Regions from separate parts of the Homo sapiens genome. Here region 2 is linked to region 1. Evidence: fine-mapped expression QTL. A gene starts in region 1. The other region holds a variant in brackets. All regions are shown on one strand. Distances are between the middles of the regions.

Region 1 (8,504 bases):
CAGTTTGGGGGAGATGCTAAGCTTACCGTCCTAACCTAGAAACCCCCCGTATACACACACACTCTCCTCTCCCCCATTCCGAAGGCTGGAGCTGGGGATTTCCTGGGGACTTAACCGGCAGGACAGCCCTTTACGGGCTGAGGAGACAAGGAAGGAGGAAGGGAAGGAAGTGGTAGCCATGTGGCTCTGGGTTCTGGGAGCCAGAGGGGCCACCCTCCTACTGCTCCACGGCCCAGTCCTGTCTCCACAGACTGTGTCACCCTCAGGAGGACCCTGGTGTCTCCCAAATGTGCACAGGCAGCACCGCCCCCCAAATGTGCACAGGCAGCACCGTCCATCCCTGGCTTTGAAGGGGGACTTCTCCCACCCATCATCTGGTCTGATCCTCACAAACACCCCAGGAGACAGGCAGGACAGGCGCTGTCATCACTCTCACTAGACGGGGGAGGAAAACGAGGCTCAAAGAGGGGAAGTAGGGCGTAGACGATGGACTCTACAAGATATTTAGCCAGGCCATTTTACACCCAGAGAAACTGAGGCCCCCACAGGGAAGGGACCTGGCCCAGGGTCCCATAGTAAATGAGAAGCAGGCCCTCTGACCTCCACCTCACACCATCTCCCCATCCATTCGGCCAGCTCCTTATTAACCACTGATGGACTAACTTCCTAGTGTCCAGGGGGCAAACGGAACAAGAGCCTGAGGCAAGCATTGGGGTGCCTGCTGCAGCCCTCCTCCCACCCTGCTGTGGCTTCCCTTCCCCACCCTGCCCCCAAGTGGCAGTCCAAGTAGCCATACCCTCCTGTGACGTCAGCGCCCACCAGCCCTGTGTCCAGGGCCAGGGTCCAGGCTGGCCACAGCCCACCAGATTCCAACCAGCCTCTGCCAGGGCGATGGCTGGACAGATGTGGCCCTTCCATCTACCCCAGAGTAATTAAAAACACACCCAGGCCTCTTCCAACGAGAGAGGGGCCAATTTTCTTCCCCTCCAGCACCGCTGACTGCAACCTAAATAGCAATATTTATGCCAAGCTCCCCATAATACTGTAAACATCCCAATGTATAGCGGGCCAACGCATGAGTCATTTCCCCAAAGCCAGAGTTAATAAGTGGTACCTCAGCCATATTCCACAGAGCTCCCGCCAGCAGCCAGGCCCCAGGGCTGCCCTCCACACCCAGGGCCCGTGGCACCCTAGGTGCCCCAGTGGCCCCACTCCGGGAAACCGCAGTCAGCCGCCAAATCCCCCAGGAGCCGAAGGACAGCTGCCTCAGTGCCAGAAACTGTGGCTGCCATCCAGGGACACCCCCCACCCCCTGACTGCGGTCACTAAAGTGCTCATTACCGAAAGAGAAACTGAAGTTGTAGCACAGGGTCCCCCACGACGCCTTTCCCAGAGGCCGCAGCCCCCACGTCTGGTCTGATATGCGTTTTTTCTTAGGCTGCAAGAAGGGAAGGGGCGCCCCACAACCCTAAAGTGGCCTGAGAGGTGCACACAGACATCATCCCTAAGCCCAAGGGAGCAGAACCCTGGAAGGGCTCACGCAGTTTAGGGGCAACAAAACCCAGCTAAGTGAGTGCTGGTTTCAAAGAAAGACCACAGACCTGGGTTCTATTTTTGTCACCCAACGGCCCTGGGTGAGACATCGGACTTTTCAGAACCTCGGTTTCCCTATCTGTTCAAGAGAAGTAGGAATCATACCTACCTGTCTTCCCCGGAAGGTGTATTTTGAGGGATCCAACACGCTGGTGGGCGGGAAAGCACTTTGTAAAGCTTAAAGTACCTTGTCAACTGTGCAGCACGTTGTAAACCACAGAGAGCTGCGTATAGTGCGAAGTACTTCATAAACTGTAAAGTGGTTTGAAAACTGTAAAGTGCAGTACACGTGAGAACCATTATTCACGTTCGCTTCTTGCCCTGCAAGCTCGGCCATTCCTGGTGGACACACCCAGACCGCACTAACTTTCCCTCCAGAGCAAGCTGGCTCGGGAGACCTAGCAACTACCCTTGCCCCCCTGGGGGTCGAGTGGTACCAATACACGAGGCCACGGGGAGAGGGCCCGCGACCCTGGCCAAGGCCAACACATGGCAAGAGCATCTGGTCCGGCCCCGGCGGCAGCTGGAGAGTTCCCGGGGCTCCAGCCGCCACGCTGAGCGCCGCGGCCGCGGGGCGGTGGCCGGCGGGGGTGCCCGGAGACCTTGCGCGGCGGAGAGATGCCCACAGACCCATCCCCCGCGCAGTCCTCTCGGGGAGGGGACCCCATTGTACGCCGCGGGCGATGGGCAGGCACCGACGCGGGGGCTGGCGCGCTCCCTTCCACTCTGCCAGTCCCTGCTCTCCGGGGCGCCGGGCCCCATCTCGGGGGCGCGGGCCGGGAGCCCCCACCCCGGCCGGCCGCGGTGCCTCCCTCCCTCTGCTCCCTGCCAAACTTTCCAGCCCCGACCGAGCGCCGGCGCCCCCCCCGCCCCCCGCCACGGCCGGGCCCGCGCCCCTCCACCCTGTGCGGAGCAAGACCAGGCCGGCGCGAGGCGGCTGCCCGAGCCGGGGGCGGCGAGCGCGCGTGGGCAGCCCCCAGCCCTGGGCGGCGCTCGCCGGGCTGGCTACAAAGCCTCGGCAAGATGGTCCCTTCGCCTCCTCCTGGCACAGTCAATCAGCGCCCGCCGCTCCCCGGGCGCCCGCGGGGCCCGCTCCTCCCGGCGCGGCCGGACACACCTCCCCGCGGCCACCTGCGCCCGGCGCCGGCCCCCGGGCAAACTTTGCGGGCCGCGGAGCGGAGGTGGGCGCCGGCGGCCGCCCGTGCCCGGCCGCTCCCCGCCCCCATCGCCCGCCCGCCCGCCCGCTCGCTCACCTTCCACGGCGGCGAGCAGCGGCAGCAGCAGCAGCGCGGCCCCCAGCCTCCGCAGAGCCATGGCTGCGCTTCCCGGGGCCTCGGGCCGCGGCGCCGCGGGGCCCGGACGGCCCGGGCGGGAGCGCGCGCCCCGGGCTCGGGGGGCCAGGGGGGGCGGCAAGGCGCGGCGCACACACAGCCGCCGCCACCGCGCAGCCAGCAGAATGAGCCATCCAGCCCGGGCAGAACGGGGACCCGGGCTCCGCCAGCGCTGGGCACGGCCCACCTGAGCCGCGGGCGCGGGGGGAGCCTCGCCAGGCCACCGCCCCCCGCGCGCGTCCCGGCCCCCGGCGGCCGCGCGCCGCCGCGAGCCCGGGTCCCCACACCGCGCCCGTAGGGTCACCCGGGGGCAGCGCGGGCGCTGGAGCGCGGCGACCCCGCGTGCCCGGGCCACTGAGACCCCGGGCTCCCCCCGCGCAGCAGTGGTCTCTCCCGGCGCTGTGGCTCCTCCAGATAAAGCAGCGATTTCAGCCCAAATGTTTCTCAATTTTTATTGAATGCTGCAAAGCCGGAGAGCGTCTGGCGCGGCTGACAGGGGCAGGGAGAGCGGACGGAGGGGAGGGCGGGGGAAGGGGCTTCCCAAAGCGGGGGCCGGCACTACCTGTCAGGGCAGGGAGTCCCACCCCCTCGCCTCAGCCCTGCCACCCGGGTCCCTGCGGCTTCGAAAGGGACCGAACTGCAATGAATGGAAAAAAAAAAAAAAGGGTGTGTGTGGGGGGGTGGCATCTGGGAACAAAACAGGCGGCTTTCCCAGGCACCGGGGCTGGGCCGGGGCCTCCGAGTGGGAGACTGGGCCTTGGCGCTACCCGAGGGCCTGGGGTGGGGCTGGGGGGAGGGTGGTCACTCGGCACTGGTGGGCTGGGCCCTTGCAGGCAGACCCCAGGCCTCCCCTCCCTGCCCCGTTGTTCTGAGCTGGCCCGCGAGCCCCTCACTGCAGACTCGTCTATGTCTGTATTAGATTTCTCCTTCTCTGTTGATCTTGCTCCCAGTGCAGTTTGGGGATGGGGTGAAGGAAGTCCATGGGTGAATCTGGGGAAAGCCCCAGCCACCCCCACGCTGTGGAATGGACCTGTCTGTGCAGCCGTGGTTTTGTGCATGGCCGTCCCTTCAGGGAGAACACAACCCTAGCCCCAACCCTGTGGGCCCTGCCCTGCTCTGACAGCCTTCATCACCATCATCATTAACAGACTTTACTGAAGTCTGGATGGTGGGCGGCTGCAGGGGGCCTGCGGCAATCACCCAGGCTGAACCCCTGGCAGTTGGGAGCCCACTCCTGACTGAGGAGACTTCATCAGGAGCTCGGAACTCTGTGGAGTGAGTGGAGGAGCCCAGTGCAGGAGCAGGTGGTTTAAGTCGAAGGCAGTTTAAGTCTATGCTACCCACATCTCCTGTGTCCCTTTGTCCCACATACTATCAAAATGTCCCAGCAATCCCTCCCCTTCAGTCCATACCAAGAAAATGGGGTACCACAGGCTTTGGGAATCCATCTAAGGTTTGGAAAGTTGGGTCGTCTCTTGAAGCTCCAAGAGTCCAGTTGAAATGGGTGTCATCCTGGAAGGCCACCAGGAGGAGGCAGCCTGGGAGGGAGACAGAACAGGAGTGAGCAGGGAGAGAAGAGAAACAGGAGATTTCCCCCTATTAAGCCTACAGACCCCTCACCAGGGTCAAGAGCCAGTGGGGTGGGGCTGGCAGAGCCACTACCGTTCCTATTTGAGTGAGCAGGGAGAGAGGAGAAACGAAGATTCCCCCTTTTAAGTCTACAGACCCCTCACCAGGGTCAAGATCCACTGGGGTGGGGCTAGCCTTTATTTTCAGTTCTTGCCTGTCAGACCTTCCAGGAGACCCAGGGTTTGAGGGACCCCAAGCTTGGCCCATCTTGAGGCAATCCTCCCTCTCCTGGACAGAGCAGCTCTAAGCTCTGGCCCCCTCCAGTGCATCCAGGTGCTAGACACTTCCAAATTCAAGAAGTCATTATTGAGCACCTATTATGTACTGTGCAGATTCAGCTTTTTTGCTTTGTTTCTATTTCCTGGGACCCTTGACTCCACCTACCCAGGGCCAGTGGTTACTTCCTTTTTGTCTCAAAATAGGAAGACCAGTGACTCTGCTTTATTGAGGACATGGTACCAGGCACTAGGCTGGGCTTTGTTTATTTCTTGTCCCCCTTAATCTTTCCTACTCTGTGCACCAGGTGCTGATCTTTTCACATGATGAAACTGAGGACCAGATAAGTAATTTGTCCAAAGTCACATGGCAAATTGGGCTAGGATTCAACCCCATGTCCGTCCGACCCCAGTGCTGACCTCCTTGTACCTTTCACAGAAGCACAGAGCTCAGGGCTCTTCCCACAGGCTATTTCACAGATAAGGAAACTGAGGCCTAAAAAGGAAAGTGACTCACCCAACGTTATCTGATGAAATAGACATCTATCCAGGGCCTTTACCTGGCAAAAATAGAAAATTACTGATCATAATTAAGTTCCCCTTCTCTCACATCCTCTTCTCTCTAAACAGTATTTTATTCCCCATTTGGGGTGGCTGGGTTCTGCAGTCTGGCCAGGCTCTCCTCCCTGATTTCTTGGCAACCGCCTTTAGCTGTGCTTTTGTCCCAGCTGTGCACTCCACCTGGTTGCCTTCTTGGCTCTAAAGACTTGGATTCAGCCTCACCCCAGCCCCCACCAAGAGCTTAATTGACATTCGCCTCACCCCTCTCTGACTGACCTATTTGCCTATTATCTGTTCCCTGAAAGATAATCAGCCCCACATGGTCCATTGCTGGTTTCTCTGATGGATTGTTTCTGATTTGCACGTTATCTCTACAACTCCAGCCGACTGTGAGCTCCATGAGGGCAGTGCCTGGATGCAAAACTATACTGTACACTGCCAGGGCAGGAGGCCCCAGGGAGCATCTGACCCAATCCCCTCCTCAGCAGAGGAGGAGGCGGTTTAAGCTTCATTTGTCTAATGACAACAGCTACTCGAATTTGCAATCACGCTTTAACAGTTTACAAAGCAGCGTTCACACCCATCAACTCGACTCATGCTAATTCAACCAGCCTATCCTGCGAGCCAGCCCGGCAGCCAGGGAACGCCATTTTTCAGACGGGGAAATTGGGGCCCAAAGAGGGGCCACTTGCCCAAAGACATGTGGAAGGTTTGGGGTTTTTTGTTTGTTTTTGGTGCAGCTGGAGTGAGGCTTCAGTGACCTGTCTTGTCTAGGTCTCTTTCAATCAGAGTTGATTGACAAACATTAGTTGGGCACCTCCTGCATACCAGGCACTGAGGAGGCAGGGACGCAGCTGTGGACCTGCCAGACAAGGCCCTGCTCTCTGGGAGCCTATATTCTGCTGCAGAGAGACCTATATAGGGACAAGCTAATAACGATAATGGTAAGTGCGAGAAAGATAATGACCAGGGTGATGGGGCAGTGATTGACGGAGGGCAGGGGGCTGCTCTGGCCAGGGGAATCAGGGAAGGCCTCTTAGGCAACATGGCAGCTAAAAGCTGGACAGCGAGGAGTCTACCATGCCAACATGTGGGAAGAGAGCTCCAGGTGGAAGAAACTGCAGAGGCAAAGGCCCTGAGGTGGGAACACACTGGGTACCCTCTGGGAATAGGAGCTGAAGTACGGCAATCAACTGGAGCGTGGAGGAGGTTACATCAGGGAGGGAGAATATGGATTGTAGTTTAACCTCAATGGGGGAGTCATGGAGGATTATAAGTTGAGACTGGATAGATTGGAGGTAGAGGAAATAGCATGAACTTGGCTGAGCAGGGCCTGGGGGACCCCATGTGTTAACCCATGCCACCATCCTCCCGGTCTGTGGGGCTGGGCTGGCCTCTAGAGCCCCTAGATGGAGACACCAGGGGCTCTCTTAACTTGCTTCCCTTAACTTGACTCCCTTAACTCCCTAGCCCTCCCTTAACTTACTGTGTGACCTTGGGCAGGGTACTCACCGTCTCTGGGCCCCACTTGCCACAAATGCCAAATGAGGGCATTGGCCAAGGTGGTTTCTCTGAGGCCACTTTCAGCCCTCTCTTTGTCGTGGATTCAGTGGGGGCAACAGGACCTTGGTGAGGATCTCAGCCATACCAGAGGATGCCAATGAGCTCTAGGCTCCCTTTGCTTTCCCTGAGGCTCCTTCTTCCTGAGGGGAAAGGTAGTGGGGCTCTTGAAGGGGGGAAACATGTTACACTGAGTGGCAGAGCCCAGAGAAAACATAGAATAGACATCCCCTCTCGGTGTACCCAAGTCTCTGACTCCCATCCCAGTGGCTTTGCTGACTGATGCAGGATTGATGGGGTCACATGGCCATTTGTGGGTCAAACCATCCCTACAGCCAGTGCCAGGCCAGGGGGAATTTCTTTTTTTTTACTATATATATTTTTTATTATGCTTTAAGTTCTAGGATACATGTGCACAACGTGCAGGTTTGTTACATATGTATACATGTGCCATGCTGGTGTGCTGCACCCATTAACTCGTCATTTACATTAGGTATTTCTCCTAATGCTATCCCTCCCCACTGCCCCCACCCCACAACAGGCCCTGACGTGTGATGTTCCCCACCTGTGTCCAAGTGTTCTCATTGTTCCATTCCCACCTATGAGTGAGAACATGCGGTGTTTGGTTTTCTGCCCTTGTGATAGTTTGCTCAGAATGATGGTTTCCAGCTTCATCCATGGCCCTATAAAGGACATGAACTCATCCTTTTTTAAGGCTGCATAGTATTCCATGGTGTTTATGTGCCACATTTTCTTAATCCAGTCTATCATTGATGGACATTTGGGTTGGTTCCAAGTCTTTGCTATTGTGAATAGGGCCTCAATAAACATATGTGTGCATGTGTCTTTATAGCAGCACGATTTATAATCCTTTGGGTATATACCCAGTAATGGGATCGCTGGGTCAAATGGTATTTCTAGTTCTAGATCCTTGAGGAATCGCCACACTGTCTTCCACAATGGTTGAACTAGTTTTCAGTCCCACCAACGGTGTAAAAGTGTTCCTATTTCTCCACATCCTCTCCAGCATCTGTTGTTTCCTGACTTTTTAATGATCACCATTCTAACTGGTATAGATGGTATCTCATTGTGGTTTTGATTTGCATTTCTCTGATGGCCAGTGATGATGAGCATTTTTTCCTGTGTCTATTGGCTGCATAAATGTACAGAGACATGGCTCAAATTCTAGTTCTGTCACCAGTTGGCTGTGTGACCTCAGACAGGGCTCTTCCCCTTTCTGGGCCTGAGTTGAGAGCCCCAGATCTACCCTCATGAAGCTCATGAACCAGCACTGTCCAATAGAAATATGATCTAAGCCCCACATATAATTAAACCATTTCTAGTAGGCATATTTAAAAAAAAGAAAAAGAAATAGATGGAGTTAATTTTAATATATTTATTAACCCAATATATCCAAAATATTATCATTTCAGCATGTAATGAATGAACCATTTTACATTCTTTTTTCACACGAAGCCTTTGCAATGTAGCATGCATTTTATATTTCAGCATAGCTCAACTTGCACTAGCTACATTTCAAGTATTCAATAGACACGTGTGGCTGGTGGCTAGTGGCTACCATTATTGGATAGCACAGATATAGACACTGACGGCA
Region 2 (8,000 bases), 94 kb before region 1:
AGTACACATGGCACATGCTCAGACCATGGGGGTAGAGGCTGGGAGGGAGCTGGACCAGCTGACCTTTTGACTTCTAGGAGGCTGGGCTCCTCATATGCGTAGATCCAACCAGTATGCTCAGGCCAGAAAGCTTGACCTTAAATGCTGGTTCTGCTATGTCCTTGTCATGCCTGACCAAGTCACCAAGCCGTTCTGAGCGCCTTGGCAGCTCCATCTATAAAATGGGGATATTTCAGAATGATGGTGTGTAGAGCCAGAGTCTAGCAAGCGCCCTAACATACAGCAGGTGCTCAATAAAAGCCATTTCTCCCTTTTCCTTCCTTCCTAAGGTAGTACTCAGGGCCAGCATCTACACCCTACAGTGCCCAAGTCAGAGACAAGATTCTGGGAGAAAACATGTGGACAGCCCAAATTCCAGGAAGCAGGCCCAGAGGAGCAGAGGAGACAGAAGGGGAGAAGGGGAGGTGACAGGTCCCTCAGAGGTGCCCCAAGTGGCTGTTCCTCGAAGCGTGGGACCCATGGCCCACATGTGCCAGGCCACCCCAGGGTCCTCAACTATTCCTGCTCCCCCGCCTAGCTGGGAAGCGTTCCCATCCTTCCTTTAAGCAGAGGCGCCTGCCTCTTGGTGCTGCAGCCGGAGTGCTGATAATAAAGGCACCTCTGTGTGTCTCTGGGGAAGTAGGGCTGGGGGGTGGTGACGAGGGGGGGCCCACAAAGCTCCCGCAGCTGTGTGTTTGCAAACAGGGGAGCTGAGCTGTGCAGAGGGGCTGAAAGCACTAATTGTCTTTAATTAAAGGAGGTTGGAGGCAGTGCAGGCTTTGACAAAAGAGATTTCCAGCCTGTTAGCAGCTTCAGCCTATGCAGGCGCTGGGCCGCCCAGGCGCGCCCTCGGCTTTGTCCCTGTGGGGCCTGGCCCTGTGGAGGGCACAGCTAACACCTGCCTGGCGGGGGTGGGAATAGGGGCGGCAGGAGCCAAGCACACGCAGTAGGACCTTACTGTGCTGAGAAGCTGGGATCCTGGGGCCTGGGAAGCCATCCTCATGGTGAACTCCTTTCCCATCCATCCATCCATCCATCCATCCATCCGTCCGTCCGTCCGTCCGTCCGTCCGTCCATCCATCCATCCACTCATTGACTCAGCAAGCACTGTTGAGCATTTGCTATGTGCCTAGCCAGTGCTCAGAGCCGGGGGCACAGAAATGTGGCAATTCCTGCGGTTCAAGGACTTGGTATTCTAAGAGGTACAGTGAGCACAGACTCTGGAACCTGCTGGCTTGAATCCTGGCTCTGCCACTTATTAGCTGTATAAACTTGGGCAAGTTACATCACTTCTGTGCACCTCAGTTTTTCCACCTGTAAAAGGGGGGTGATTACTGAGTTATAAAGTGTTTGCCCTGTGCACTTTACAAACATCAATGGCTATTATTCATTCTTTCATTTATCCAACTTTGTACCTGGCTGGAGTCTCTAGCATTCCATTGATGGGAAGAACCGTGGTCTAGGAGGCTGGTTGGGTTCCAGTCCCAGCTCTGCCAGTCACTTGCTATGTGACTTCCCAGCCTCAGTTTCCCCACCTGCACAATTAGGGCTGGACAGGATGGAGTGTGAGGGAGGGCTCTGCGGGCATGGATGGTCTCAGCTCCCTCCAGAGTCCTGGGAATGGAGGCTCCCTTGCTGGGCTCCTGCCCCCTGCTGCATACAAATGGGCTCGGCCTCCCACCCCAGGCGGCTGCTTTAGCTCATTCCATTCTTTTGTCTTCTCTTTCACCAGGCTCACCCTCAGACACATCTGCAGCCCCCCTGGCAGGCACATATGCGCTAGTGAGCTCCCTCTCCCTCCCAATCTCTCTCTCTCTCTCATACACACATGTACATGCACCTGCCTGATTCTCACCCTCACCCCCATTCCCACCCAAAAGAATCACAGCCTTTGCACCCCCACCCGCTCCTTGCTGACCCTGGGTCCAGGATGGGTGGGAGGTGGCTGCTCACAGTCTCTGATCCCCTCCAGCCCAGCTGTCTGGACTGGGTGGTTGTAGAGAGGTGGGGAGAGGGGCAGAGGGTGAGAGCATCCTGTGCCAGAGTCCTCAGGCAGTGGGAGGGAGGTCAGCTCCTGAAAGGGAGGGCCTGAGTCAGGCCACAGGGGAGTGGCAGGTCTGGAATGTTCACCTTGGGGAGTACCACAGGAGGTCAGGAGACATTTATCTCAGCCCACTCTGGGCTGGCAGCCCCTCGTTTAATTTATTCAAGGGCCTGGGGGGGAAACTGAGGCTGAGAGAGACTGCGTACGGCTCAGAGACACACAAATGGGGTCACCTCGAACCAGGACACACTTCTGTCCCTTTAGAATCCATTTTCTGAAGTCCTTCAGAATCAACAGGCCAGGCCCCCTGTGGGACATGGATTTGACAGATGTCTGGTGTGGACTCCGGGTGCATGGCTCATCCCGTACCTGCAGGATGCCAGCCCTGGGAGGTGGTGGGGGCAAGGAGAGGGGGCAAGGTGTGGCCCTGGTATGTAGGTACCTGTGCCCCTTGCTAGAGGGGGAGGTTGGGGGGCATGTCCTGACCCCAATGTGTCTGGGTTGAGGAGGGAGGATTCACTCTCTAGCCCACAATTTGCCCAGGGTCCCTGGCATGTCCAGGCACAGGCAAGTGGTCCCCTTAGAGAAGGAAATGGGGAGGGAGCTAGAGAGACGGGGAGAGAGACAAGTGGGGAGGCAGGGGAGGGAGAGAGAGAAACAGAGAGGAGGGGAGATGGAGAGACTAAGACAAGGAAAAGGAAGACAAGAGGACACTGAAGGAGCAGGGGACAGAGGCGGGGGCAAAGAGACAAGGGGAGGAAGGAGAGAAGAGGCAGGTGGGAGGGAAGAGTCAAGTTCAGAGAGCTGGGAGGGGCGGGAAGGGTGTGGGATGGGAAAGAGCTGGGCCAGTGGTGGCCCAGAGAAGCCTGACCTGGAAGGGGCCCAACTGAGCAGGGCAGGGTGGGGCGGGGAGGTTCCTAGAGGGGCTAAGGAGGGTGGCTGAGGACTGTGAGTGAGTCTGCATGACTGTGAGAATGCACTTCCAAGTGTGAGTGGGTGTGAGCGTGCGCTTTCAGGCCCAGGCAGACTGGGGTGTCTCGTCTTGATCTCTTGGCTTCACACACCCTCTGCATTTTATATTCATGAGAACTGAGCTGAAAGATTAATTCATATTTAATACAGCCTTCGCTGGCAGGATGGGGGGTGGTGCAGATTTTTTCCTTAAAGGCACTAGGTAAGGAAGAATTGATTGATTGATTGATTGGTTTTCTCCATCCATGCATCCATCCCCCACCCACTAAGCACCTCCTGTGTGGCAGGCACAGTGCTGGGCAGGAGGACCAAACCAGCCAACCCAATAAGCTCATTCCTACACTGGCCGCGGCAGCCTGGGATGGTGGGAAAGGTCTAATGCGGTCCTGAGTGTAAAAGGCAGTTCCATTAATGTGCTCTGTGAGACCGCACAAGCCCTTCTGCCTCTTGGAACCTGTTTTCTCACTTGTAAGACGGGGTGGGCAACTCCTGCTCCCAGGGATTGGTGAAGATGTGTATGGAATGTGCCTAGCACCACCACAGAAATTCCAGATCTCTAAGGTTGGCTTGTGGCACTGTGGCCTCCTAACCACTATCTCTAAACACTTTTTTTTTTTCTCTTGAGACAGGGTCTCACTCTGTTGCCCAGGCTGGAGTGCACTGGTGCAATCACAGCTCACTGCAGCCTAGAACCCCTAGGCTCAAGTGATCTTCCCACCTCAGCCTCCCTAGTAGCTGGAACCACAAACATGCATCGTCACACCCCAGCTAATTTATATATATATATATATACACACACACACACATATACATATATATACACATATACATATATATACACACATATATATACATATATACACACATATATATACACATATATATATATACACATATATATACACATATATATATATATTATTTTTTTTTGAGACAGGGTCTCACTCTATTGCCCAGGTTAGAGTGCAGTGGTGAGATCATGGCTCACGGCAGCTTGGACCTCCTGGCCCAAGTGATCCTCCCACCTCAGCCTCCCTAGTAGCTGGGACTACAAGTGCGTACCACCACACCTGGCTAATTTTTAATTTTTTTGTAGAGATGGGGTTTCACCATGTTGCCCAGGCTAGTCTTGAACCCCTGGGCTCAAGTGATCCTCCAGCTTCAGCCTCCCAAAGTGCTGAGATTACAGGTGTGTGCCACTGTGCCCGGCCTAACCACGATTCTTACAGAAGATCCTGAACATCCAGTGGCTGCCAACTCCACAGCGGCTGCAGCTGTGCAGCCTCACTAGGGCAGCGGGTGGGAGGTGGGTCAGTCCTGCCCGGCCCAGGCAGCTATGGAATGAGCACAAAGATTTGAGGGACAGGAGATGCCCTTCCCCTAGAAGCCCCACAACTACCCTGCCTCTCAGGTTAGGATAGCCAGAGCCTCCTCAGGCTATTTCTTGCTTGTCCTCCAGGTCTCTGTGCTGGTGGCCCTTCCTCTAGAAAGGCCTCTGGGACTCCCAGGCTCAGGGTGGTCCCATCCCCACATCCTAGTCCTAGTCTCCCCAGTGGGTCCCCATAGTCCTTACTGCTCCATGCACACACTCCACCCTCTCTGTGCACCAGGGGCTCCTTGTCTCTGTCCACTGTGGGCTCCTGGGGGCAGAGGCCATGGCAGATCCCACTGTGTTCTGGCCCAGCACAAGGCCTGACACATTTCTAGAGGGGCAGGGGCATTTGCTGGTCCGTGAGCTGAGAGTCAGACCATATTCTACCTGATACTGCTTCCCCTGAGGGCCTGAAATCCAC[C/T]TCCTCAGATGCCATATCCCTCTGTGGGGAAGGGCATCAGGGACTCTCATCACTCAGGAGGTCCAGGGAGTTGGGGGTGGGGCTGGGTGGTGCGGGTGGACAGGGGGATGAGACATCTCTGCTACGGACTACCCTTGTGTCCTCGAGCCAGACCTTTCTCCTCTCGGAGCCTCAGTTTCCACAGCTGTAAACCAGAAGGGTAACTTTCATGGTGCTGGCTGGGGAAGGGCATAGTCTTTGGCCTTAGACTGGTGGCCCTGCCAAGGGGTGGCTGGTGGTGGCAGATTCTCTAGACACATCTCTCAAAGCCTGCCACCTCCCCATTCTTAGGGTCCCCACCTCCATCATACATAAAGTGTTTTGCAAATGAAGAGTCAATACCCACCCCTGCAATCCAATCAATCCCCCAAAGCCCCTCCCAGGTGGAAATCCTTCTGGTGCCCACTCCACTGTAGACACAGCTGAGCTTGGCTGCCAGCTCTACCCTCCAACCCTCAAATGGGGAACCAAATAACCCAACTGGGCCATCATTTCCCCCATGGGCCTCCTATAGGCCAGGCTAGTCTGCCCCCTAGCCCCCTTCTCTTCTCTTCCCCAAGCTGGATTCAACACTGGGCGGGCCCCCTCCTCCACTCTCTGCCTGGACGTGACATTCACCAGCATCACTTCTGGTCCCATCTGCGAGCACCCCACCCCCCAGCAGCTAATCCCCACAAAGCCCTGCGCAGGGCCCAGCATGACAAGCAGGCCCCGCGCTGCTTGCAGCTTGGCTGAGCGTGCTCGGAGGGGCTGAGGCGGGATTCGGCGCGGCTGTCACTCTCCCTGTCCGCTCCTCTAATTGGATTCCCAACACGCAGAGGTCAGCAGAAACGCTGGGTAGAGGAGAATCAAAGGGAAGGGGCGTCTGGGAGATAAAGAGAGGCATTCTTCCTGGGCCACAAAGACTGCAGCACGAGGGGGCGGGAGGGGACCCCACGAGGGGCTGCCCATCTGGAGGGGGAAGGGGATGGGATGGGAGAGCCCAAGGCAAGTGACAGAGGCTGAGGGCCTATTTCCTCTAGGCTGGAGTTTCCCTATGCTGCACCTCTGCCCACATGGTGCCTTGGGCCTGTAGGCCATCCCCTCGTGTGGGGTCTGGGCATCCTCTAAGGCCTGGCCTCTCACTCCTGCTTGCTGGAGGAAGCGTTCTTGGAATGCGGTGGGAAGGTTCCGGAGTCCACTGGACCTGGGTCCCAATCCTGGCTTGCCACCTGCTCTCGGTGAAGTTCGACAAAGCCCTTGCAGTTCTCTGGGGCTCGGTTTCCCCTCTGTGGAAGGCGGATAACACCAGCTGCCACCCAGGGCGGTGGCTGGGATAAAAATGAAGGGATGTCAGCAAAATGCTTGGAGCAGAGGGCCCACAGGAAGGGGGGCATTCATGGGTGTCCCTTCCCAAAGCTCCTCTGCTGGCCTGGCGAGGACAGACACAAGCCTCTCTCCCCAGATGAAAGTGCTTCGTAAACGTAACAGCCGGGACAGATGAGAGAGAACCTCCAGCCTTGGCAGGGGCTTCACCACTCACATCTTCACCACCACCCTGTGCCTATCGGGCAGAGGAGGAACCCGAGGCTCAGGAAATGACGGGAAATGGCCAAGGCCATACAGCTAGAAAGCAGCAGAGTCTGGCCAGGGAGCCTGCCCCCTGTACCCCTGCAGGGCTGCTGTGCCCACCTGAGCACGACAAGCAGGTCCTGTGGGTATATGTGTGTGTGCAGGCACAACCGGTGGAGGAGATGGGCGGGCCAGGGATGGAGCGTTGCGCAAAACAGGCCTGGTTTGCTTTAAGAACACTGGAACCACTGATTTTGCTTCATGAAAGAGGCATGAATAGGACCTCAAAGGGAATTTCTAAGAGACAGAAAATCAATGGCCCTGACATATCTTGGTCCCCAGAAAGAGAGAGAGAGTGTGTGTGTGTGTGTGTGTGTGTGTCACATACACACGCACACACTCCACAAATTGATCCAGCCATGTGCGTGCACACACACACACACACACACATATACTCACACAGATAGGGCTCACATATGCTAACAAGTACCCATTTTCACGTACATCTGGCTTGATAAAATATACAGATGTACACATGAATCTGAATACTCTGGCTGATTTCCCTGTGAGTGGGTGGGCACCCATGCAAACACACACCTGCATGACCCAGTGAGCGTACTCAACAGCAGTGGCGTGTACACACAGATGGGGACCTCCCTCCACGGCTGCACCCACACATTCTTAGGTGTGTGCTTTGATCCAGCACACTCATGAGTGTGCTCCTCCCTGCACACATATGCTGGGGCAGGTCAGGCAGACACAGGAACACACCAATACAGGGAGAGGAATGGCTCCCAGCAGGCTCCAGTGTCACCCACACAGGCAAGCTCTGTGCGCAGCCCGCCCCTGAAATGTACGTACATGCCCATAGATCCGAGACGTTCCAACAGCATGTGCAGAGGCTGGCTCAGTGGGTACGCTAGTGCACGTATGGGCACACAAACAACTCCCAGCAGGCCCAGCGCACACGCATGCGTACAGGGACGCTCTGTGCTGACCCAGCACATGCGTGCACATCCCTCCCGGGTCTCCGGGGAGCTCCCACAGACAGACAGCTCTGACAGCAGGGTGTGGGGGAGGGCAGCTCAGGGCCAGGGTTGCCAGGGATACGGATGTGGGGCTCTCAAAGCTGCATGGCCTGCCCAGGCAGCACAGACACGCCAGTGACCACTCTTAGGTCTTTAAAATGTTGCTAATCAGATGGCAATGCCTTTAAGGGAGGGAACTGGGAACTTGAGGCTGGTTTCCTAGAAGGAGCCAGTATAACCCTGACAGGTCCCAGGTCAGGCCTGCAAAGACCCCAGGGCGGAATCTTTTCTCTCTAAGGCTGCCATGAGGCTCTGGGCCCAAAATTTGCTGGGGACACAGCGACAGACATAGCTCTGCATGGCCCCTAAGCCTCACCCAGGTCATACCTCCTGCTCCACCAAACGACCTGTGTTCAGTGACAACCACTTACTTGCTGTGTGGACTGGAGCAAGTCACTTGGCTTCTCTGAACCCCAGTTCCCTCATCTGCAAAAGGGGATGGTCATGACTTCGAGCATTTAGATCGCAGGGGCC

Direction of the effects. Positions count from the first base shown, and alleles are read on the strand shown. Sizes are in standard deviations (SD) of each study's normalised expression.
In carriers of allele C in region 2, the expression in subcutaneous fat of the gene that starts at base 3,051 in region 1 tends to be higher than with T alone (small effect, 0.18 SD a copy in GTEx).

What was found. PIP is the estimated chance that this variant, and not a neighbour inherited with it, causes the effect.
Region 2: its variant is fine-mapped to the expression of EPHB2 in subcutaneous fat (GTEx, PIP above 0.99).

Annotation. Positions count from the first base shown.
Region 1 is chr1:22,705,386-22,713,889 of GRCh38, reverse strand. It overlaps EPHB2 (EPH receptor B2), which reads right to left and starts at 3,051. Exons shown (of 16, transcript NM_017449.5): 1 at 2,847-3,051. The coding sequence starts at 2,907. RefSeq lists an enhancer at 1,758-1,857 and a silencer at 4,079-4,364.
Region 2 is chr1:22,799,591-22,807,590 of GRCh38, reverse strand. The region is part of intron 3 of EPHB2 (EPH receptor B2); the gene reads right to left. Among named protein-coding and RNA genes, the nearest start is that of MIR4253, 60 kb to the left of the region's middle. The variant C/T (reference allele first, on the strand shown) is at 4,849.